2 linked regions of the Homo sapiens genome follow. The protein of the gene in region 1 purifies or fractionates together with the protein of each later gene. This does not show direct contact. Each region holds a gene or a part of one and is shown on either strand. Other genes may lie near its edges.

Region 1 (4,371 bases):
ACTTTTGGAATCATTTAAAAGTTAAAAAGAATTTTATTATGATAGTTCAAGCATACAGAAAAGTATCAGAGAGTCACATAACAAATGTATGTACCCTCTGCCATTCAGATGTGCCCAGTTTATATATATGTATATGTACATATGAGGCATATATGTGTATGTAGATACTGTATATGTATATAAAGAAATAACTCATAACAAATAGAGTTGAAGTCCCCTTAATAACCTTCCTCTATTGCCTTTCCTTTTCTATCCCCACTGAGGCAGCTGGCTTATTTAACAACTTTTATTTATATTTATCTTCACTCCGTATTACATGTAGGTGCTGACGTACAGAAAGGCAAATATTGGGATACTCCATTACATGCTGCTGCTCAACAATCCAGCACAGAAATTGTAAACTTACTGCTAGAATTTGGAGCAGATATCAATGCCAAAAATACAGAGCTTCTGCGACCTATAGATGTAGCTACGTCTAGCAGTATGGTGGAAAGGATATTGCTTCAACATGAAGGTAAGAAAAATACATGTGGAAACTTACAAAAACAAAATATATTTGCCTAAAATAGATGAAAGTGAGAGAGTTTTTGTTGGCATGGAAAGTAACAATGGCATAAAATGTGGAATATTATTTGTGAAAGTAGATGATTTTTAACTTAGGTTTTATCTATAAAGAAGATATCAGCCGAGTGTGGTGGCTCACACCTGTAATCCCAGCACTTTGGGAGGCCAAGGCGGGTGGATCACAAGGTCAAGAGATCAAGGCCATCCTGGCCAACATGGTGAAACCCTGTCTCTACTAAAAACACAAAAATTAGCTGGGCATGGTGGTGCGTGCCTGTAATCTCAGCTACTCAGGAGGCTGCGGAAGGAGAATCACTTGAACCCGGGAGGCGGAGGTTGCAGTGAGCCAGGATTACGCCACTGCACTCCAACCTGGCAACAGAGTGAGACTCCATCTAAAAAAAAGAAAAAAAATGATAATTTTAATTTTCTCTTTCATCTTACCTAAACTCTCATATATTTTTGGTTAAATATATTCAATTAGTTTCAGTAATGCATTATATGCACTTCTGGTATAATATCTGCTGATTTATATTTGGAGCATGCCCCATTTTATAAGGACATGAACCTTCTATAACATATTATAGAAATAAAATTAGTAAATATTTTTACATTTGAGACTTTTGTTCTAAAATAGGATTTCTTAATCCTAGTCCAGGGACTATAATATTTCTTTTAGGGTAAATATTAAACTTAATTTTAAAATTTCCCCTTTTAGTGCATAATACTTCTCAGGACTTTTGATTTATATCTCCTTCAAAAAGCAGACTTTGTTTCTGAGGCTTTAAATTCAACAATTATTTCCTAAGCCTGAGGATTATAATATTTTAAGGAATGTATATGGAATATATCTCAATTATAATAAGATCTTATAAATAAAAGCAATATAACTGCTTACATAAATTTCCCTAGTATAGTGGTCATGCTATCCTAGGTTTACTACAAAGCATTGTAGTTTTTATGGTTTTATGTTATGTACCTTACAACATAAAAAATTCATTTCTATTTTAATTAACAAATAGATTCATGTCTTCTTGTAGCTACCCCAAGCTCTCTTTACCAACTTTGCCGACTCTGTATCCGAAGCTACATAGGAAAACCAAGATTGCACCTTATCCCACAACTCCAGCTGCCAACGTTACTGAAGAATTTCTTACAGTATCGATAAAACAGTAAAGTAATTCTAAATACCTTGAAAATCAAAATTTCTATTTCTTTTGCTTAAGGAATAGTTCATATAAAAATATGCTAAAGATAGGATAAAAGTGAGTGTGAGATCACCCAGGGAAGCAGTAAAATATCAATTTTCATTTTAAGTGTATTAGTACTATTGTTTTATCATTTATGCTGTCTTTGGATTATAGCATATTTATAATATCTATTTTTTGTTATTTCAATATACCCTCCTGTTTATTCAGGAAAAAATAATAAAGTCACTATCTTATGTTTTCTTTTGGATTGGAAAGAAATAAAGCTCCTAGTAAAGTTATTCATATTATATTTAAAAAGGTCTATGTTCTTCAACTAATGGGTTAACTTTTTAATTTTGGCTATTGTAATTGGCTAACTTGTTACTGATATTGACATAAAATATGAATATGGCTTAGCAAAGAGCAACTAATATGTTTTCTGAAACCAGGATGATGCTCATTCAGGAAATCCACTATGTTGAATGTCCACTGGTCATTAGAATGAACACTTCATAAAGATAAATTGCCCCCCTCTCCCCCACTTACCCCTGGCAAAGGACTCACAAGTCACTTCTCTTCTCCATAGTACATGGACTTGTTACAGAAAAGTGATAGGATGAAAGGTCAATACTGCCCTCTCACCCTGAGATATTTAGAACATTACACACCTTCTAAGGCTATGTTAAGACTGCCTCCTTCTCAGGAGTAGCCCCTGATGATCTCTTATCAAGGCGGTTATATGCATATTACTCCAGCCTTCTTCCATTTCAGAAATTGTCAATAGCTAGTGATACTTGGACTTAAGAAAATGAACTATATATCTAATTAACAAACAGGCCCTGGATCATATTCCGGGGATCATCACATCAGTCCAAGGATATAAAAAAATGGAAGATTAAAAACTCAAATTGTGGAGTTTTTAAAGAGTGGGTGCCACTTAACACATTGGAGACCTTAAAAAATGTATATAGAGAACTTAATCGCACTGTTTCTAATTCTTTTTACACAAAACAAGGGCTTAGAGTATACTGTATTTGCAAGTAATAGCAAGAGAGTATTGTATAAAAGAAGATATTACTAAGCTAGTCCTCTGCAAGGGTAAATACTACGTTTATTCTCTTCAGCTTTAACTATACTTGAGTGCAATAAAAAACTTAATAAAATTTTATGCCTGTTTTGTAATTCAGGGCCTATTATGATTTTAGAAATAAGATAATCAACGTACAACTCTTTGTAAAACAAAAGCAACTTTGGGTGAGTTTTATAGATTTATTAAATTTTGATAAAGTAAATATTTTGACCACTATTTTCAACAACCCAGGGCTTATTTTCTTCTGACTTCTTGGCTAACTTCCAGACTATGGGAAAATAAATTATGATTGTATGTGACCCCCAGATCACTAAGCTTGCATTTTGGCAGAAAGAAAAAAAATCAGTTGTGATTTAAAACGTTTGTTGAGATTTTCAAACATAGAAATAAAGCTGTAGCATATTCACTAAACAATGTTTTATATGAGGATAGGGACCTTTAAATATGTGTTTTATAGAATATCTCACACATTTGTAATGGATAACGTGCATTAAAATGGAGTTCTTATTATAGAATAACCTGGTTAAACAGATATTAAAGCTGCTTTTGGGTAAAACAGGTTTCCACCAGTATTTTCCCTGAGCTAGAGGAGAAGTCTTAGATTTTAAGAGTAATACAACCCATCTATCTTATTAGTCTTGTGCCAATAAGAGAAGTAAATATCAAACATTAAAATGGTCACTTTACAATTTCAGTATGTCTGTACCTTGTATCTTAGCTTGAGTATGATTGTCTTATCAAAGTAGTGTTCTAACTTTAATGTATTGTATGTTTGTTATTATATTAAAGTGTGATTATTATTCATTGGAATAAAACACTTTGTGTTTGTCTCATTATTTTATTTTATAATGAAAAGTCATGGAGTGACTCAGTTGCACTAATTTTTTTCACCACCAGTTTCCAAATCACTGAATCATGAGCATTAAGATAGAGTAGCACAGAATAAAAAATAGATACCTCAAAGACCTTCTAATCCAAGACATATTTTATATATATGTGACATATAATACATATAATATATGTGATATTTAATACATATAATATACATATATACATATATGTATACACACACATTAAAGTTCAAGGACAAAATTTCACAAAGTAAAAGAAACAAAATAGTTACTATGTGACATAAGATTTAAGAAATTTAGTAAAACAATAACTGTAGATAGACACTGTTGAAACAATTTTTTTGGATTAAAAAAGTAATTAAATTCTATTGTTTTAATAACCACAGCATATATTTGGTGTTTCTGAGAAAGTAAATAGATATGTAGTAGAAAAGAAAGGCCTCTTCAGAGTAGAAGGTTTTCTTTGTTCCATCATAGCACTGAGCTCAACTGACTAGTGATCCAGCTACAAAATAACTTAAAAATTATCCTTTCCCTTGGATTATTCCCACTTTTTTACTTCAGTTTCTCTGTTATTCTTATTATCATTTAGAATTTACTTTATTTTAAGGTTAGCCCTTTCTCTTAAAAACCTAACTGAACTTTCTCACAGTTTCAAGATTGATGGAAGAAAATT
Region 2 (3,821 bases), on another chromosome or scaffold:
AGGCAAATAGGGCTTGTTATTCTTGTGTCATATGAATTGACCAGGGTTCTAGGAGTTCAAATGACTTGCACAGGGTCTCCCCCGACGGAGGGAGACCCTCAAAGACCTGGCTGTTATTTCTGTGCTCTTTGTGCCGTGTTCCACTGCTTCCCTCCCTCCCAAAGCCTGTTGAGGAATGTGGGCCAGTGACAGACTTGCCACCACAGGCTGGGTCTCCTGGACCAGTTCCTGGTGCCTTCTTTACCCCTGCAGGCTTTTTAGATGCAAAGCCACAGGTGCTTCCTTCTTCCAGGCACATCTCACAGCCTGTGGGTCCCATTGCAGGAAGCTGGGCATCCATTTCTACTCCAGCAAGGACCCCAGGGAAGAACTGAGTGAGGGGCCGCTGTGTCCGTAGCATATTTGGTTCCTGTGTTCCAAGCCTGCACAGGGCTCTTAGCAGTATTATCTCATGTGTCTCCACACAGGTGCTGCCCTTAGAGGCTTTGGTGACTGATGCTGGAGAGGTGACTGAGGCAGGCAAGGCCTACGTGCCTCCACGGGTCCTGCAGGAGGCTCTGTGTGTCATCTCCGGTGTGCCAGGGCTCAAGGGTGATGTCACCGACACTGAACAACTGGCCCAGGAAATGCTGATCATCTCCCACCACCCATCCTTAGGTCCGTGGCTGCGGTGGGTGTGGGAGAGCCCAGAGCTTTAGGGGATGGGGTAAGAGCAGGCCAGGCAGAAGGCCTCAAAGAGCTCCCTTCCCCTTCAGTTGCCGTGCAGTCTGGACTTTGGCCAGCACTTCTTGCCAGGATGAAGATCGATCCTGAAGCCTTTATCACCAGGCACCTGGATCAGATCATTCCCAGGATGACCACACAGAGTCCCCTAAACCAGGTGACGGGCACATGAGCTGGTCTGGCCTCAGGTCCGGGAGGGGGCCCTCTCATCACAGTGTACAGGAAGAGAGGATTCAAAGAAGCAGGTGAAGATGGATGAAATGTAGGCTTGGACCCTTGGTTGCACGTGACAGAAATGTAAACTGGTTTAAGCACAAAAGGGAACTTACTGCCTCATTTACCTGCAAAGTCCAAGGATATGACTGGCTACAGGGGTTCACATGTTGCCCTTGGAACATTGTAGGTGATGTCTCTCTTACTCTGTCCCATCCATCTTTGTCTGTTGTCTCTGTTTTCCACGATGTGGGCTCCATTCTCAGGCTTTCCCTTTCTGGTAGCACAAGAGCTGCTAGAGTTCCAGGCTTTGTCTTGCCATCAGCTCCTAGGGGAATAGCTTGCATATTTCAATAATGTCTACTGGCTTGGGGTCGCTTTGACCCTGATTAATCTGACTTGGGTGCCATGCTCATCTCTGCACCCATCCTTCTGTTCTGGGTCACATGCCTACCTCTGGAAAAAGTGAGGGCAGCTCCACCTGAACCACGGAGATTGAGAATTGGGAAGGAGTGTATCACCTCACGTCAGGTGCTGTGTCAGACAGAGGAGCACTGCTTGGTGAGGAAAGCAGACGCAGACTCCAGCCGGCCACTGTGATGGGCATTGCCCAGGAGTAACAAGGCAGTGGCATAAAGAAGGGGAGCCAGTGCTAGGGGCATTCAGGTGTGGTGGACCTCTTGCCAGTGCCAGCCTTGGCACACACTGACCATGTCTGCGTTTGTCTGGCAGTCCTCCATGAATGCCATGGGCTCCCTTTCCGTCCTGTCGCCGGACCGGGTCCTCCCACAGCTCATCAGCACCATCACTGCCTCCGTGCAGAACCCTGCACTGCGCCTGGTGACGCGGGAGGAGTTTGCCATTATGCAGACCCCTGCTGGGGAGCTGTATGACAAATCCATCATTCAGAGGTGAGACCTCACTTATGGGCTCAGTTTCCTTTGCTCCCCAAGGCATAGTTTTCTTGTGTGTAGAATGGAGCCAGTGCCTCCTGTGAGTTGAATGCAACAGCCTATCCATTCATTGGCTAAGCGCCTGTTGTGTCCCCGGCACGGTGCTTAGGTCCTGGGTATTTAAGTGTGTCCAGTATCCGGCACTGTGCTGGTGCACAGTGCTTAACAGCTAGTTGGAATTGCATGGCTGGCGGGAGGCTGACAGGACTTGCGGTGCTTTTCAAGCTGGCTGATGACCCACTCTGGTGTTTCAGTGCCCAGCAGGACAGCATAAAAAAGGCCAACATGAAGCGAGAGAACAAAGCTTATTCCTTCAAAGAGCAGATCATCGAGCTGGAGCTGAAGGAGGTGAGTACACGGAGGCACTTACGGAAGGTGGCTGCTGAGCTTGGTGGCCTCAAGCTGGTGGCTTTTCCCACTGCACATATGCTGTTCACTTGGAACATCCTGAGGCCCATGGCACACTCCTCTGATGCCCCTGACCAGTGTCTGGTGCACTGGCACACTTTCCCTTCACCCTTGCTTCATAGCTTCTTCCACCCACAACTCAAAACCGGTTTCTTTCTCTGCTGGGTGCTGGCGACAGTGCACGTGTCTCCTCTGCTAAGTGGTGTTGCTGGATTCCATGTCTGTCCCTCCACTTCCTTGAAGACTGGGACCCATCTAGACTCCTGATAGCAGGCACAGCGCCTGGTACAGTGGGACTTCTGGGGAATCATGACTTGATTGCTGAATTCAGCTTTGGGCAGAGCAGGTTCTGACAGGAGCAGAGCACACAGGACTCTTTCCTTCTCAGCGTTTGCTCTTCTCTCTGTCTTTACAAGGCAGGATTCTTCTTGTCTTTCTCATCTCAGTCCACATGTGTGCTTCTCAGAGAGGTGGCCAGCTTGTCCACCCTATCCAAAGTAGACCCCACCCTTCCTCCCTTTTACTAAACATCATATTTGTTTCTTTACTAACATTTATCATAACCCAAAAGCATCTTGTTTATGTGCTTGTTGACTTGTTTATTATCTATCTTCGCCTGCTAGATTGTGAGCTCCGTGAGGGCAGGGACTTTATCTTGTTCCTACGATATTCCTGCCATCTGGAACAGTGCCTGGCACAATCCAGGTGCTCACTAAATGTTTGCTGAATGAGTGAGTGAGTTCTGTGGCTTGTTGTCTCAGGCCACTATAGCAGGCCTTTTCTAAGCTTCAGCTTATCCTGTGGGAGAGCTTATGTAGGAAGGGGTTGGAGAGGAGGAGGCTAAAGTTTTGATTCTGAATCCATTTGGCTGTCAGAATACCCTTTTGAGTACATTGAGGAACCTTTATTTCTCTAACATAAAAAGCCCTCTTAGCCTTTGTCAGTAGAGAATCCAGTAAAACAACTACTTCTCTATTGCTGTCTCCATTCTATAGAAACCAGGTGGCTGTGGACTTTGTGGGAGGTTGGGGGTGCACATGGTGGGTTCAGGGGCCCAACTCACACTTAGAGCTGGTATGGTGCTGTTTGTGTGGAAGCAAGCTCACCTTCCTCTGTTGGGGAGGGAGGTCTGTTCCCTGGAGATGGGATTGGTTGGTTTGCCCATCCTCTTTAGGAGATAAAGAAGAAGAAAGGCATCAAAGAGGAGGTGCAGCTGACCAGCAAGCAGAAGGAGATGCTGCAGGCCCAGCTAGACAGGGAGGCGCAGGTCCGGAGGCGGCTGCAGGAGGTGAGTGGCCACCTCCGCCACATGCTCAAGCCGGAAGAGTGCTGGGCAGCTTGGTCCTGCTGCTTGCTGTCACAAGCAGGGCCCTGCTGACCTGCCTTCTGGACAACTCTGCTTGCAGCTGGATGGGGAGCTGGAGGCGGCGCTTGGACTGCTGGACATCATCCTGGCCAAGAACCCGTCCGGCCTGACCCAGTACATCCCTGTTTTGGTCGACTCTTTTCTGCCCTTGCTGAAGT

What was found.
Region 2: the proteins of ASB5 (region 1) and GCN1 purify together in Homo sapiens (affinity purification with mass spectrometry, with the first as the bait; one large-scale study listed by BioGRID). This does not show direct contact.

Annotation. Positions count from the first base shown.
Region 1 is NC_000004.12:176,212,961-176,217,331, reverse strand, and holds the end of ASB5 (ankyrin repeat and SOCS box protein 5), read left to right. Parts: intron 1-322; coding exon 323-514; intron 515-1,604; coding exon 1,605-1,732; 3' UTR 1,733-3,659; downstream 3,660-4,371. UniProt on the Homo sapiens protein: May be a substrate-recognition component of a SCF-like ECS (Elongin-Cullin-SOCS-box protein) E3 ubiquitin-protein ligase complex which mediates the ubiquitination and subsequent proteasomal degradation of target proteins.
Region 2 is NC_000012.12:120,159,906-120,163,726, reverse strand, and holds part of GCN1 (stalled ribosome sensor GCN1), read left to right. Parts: intron 1-467; coding exon 468-657; intron 658-755; coding exon 756-880; intron 881-1,668; coding exon 1,669-1,847; intron 1,848-2,143; coding exon 2,144-2,237; intron 2,238-3,471; coding exon 3,472-3,585; intron 3,586-3,703; coding exon 3,704-3,821. UniProt on the Homo sapiens protein: Ribosome collision sensor that plays a key role in the RNF14-RNF25 translation quality control pathway, a pathway that takes place when a ribosome has stalled during translation, and which promotes ubiquitination and degradation of translation factors on stalled ribosomes.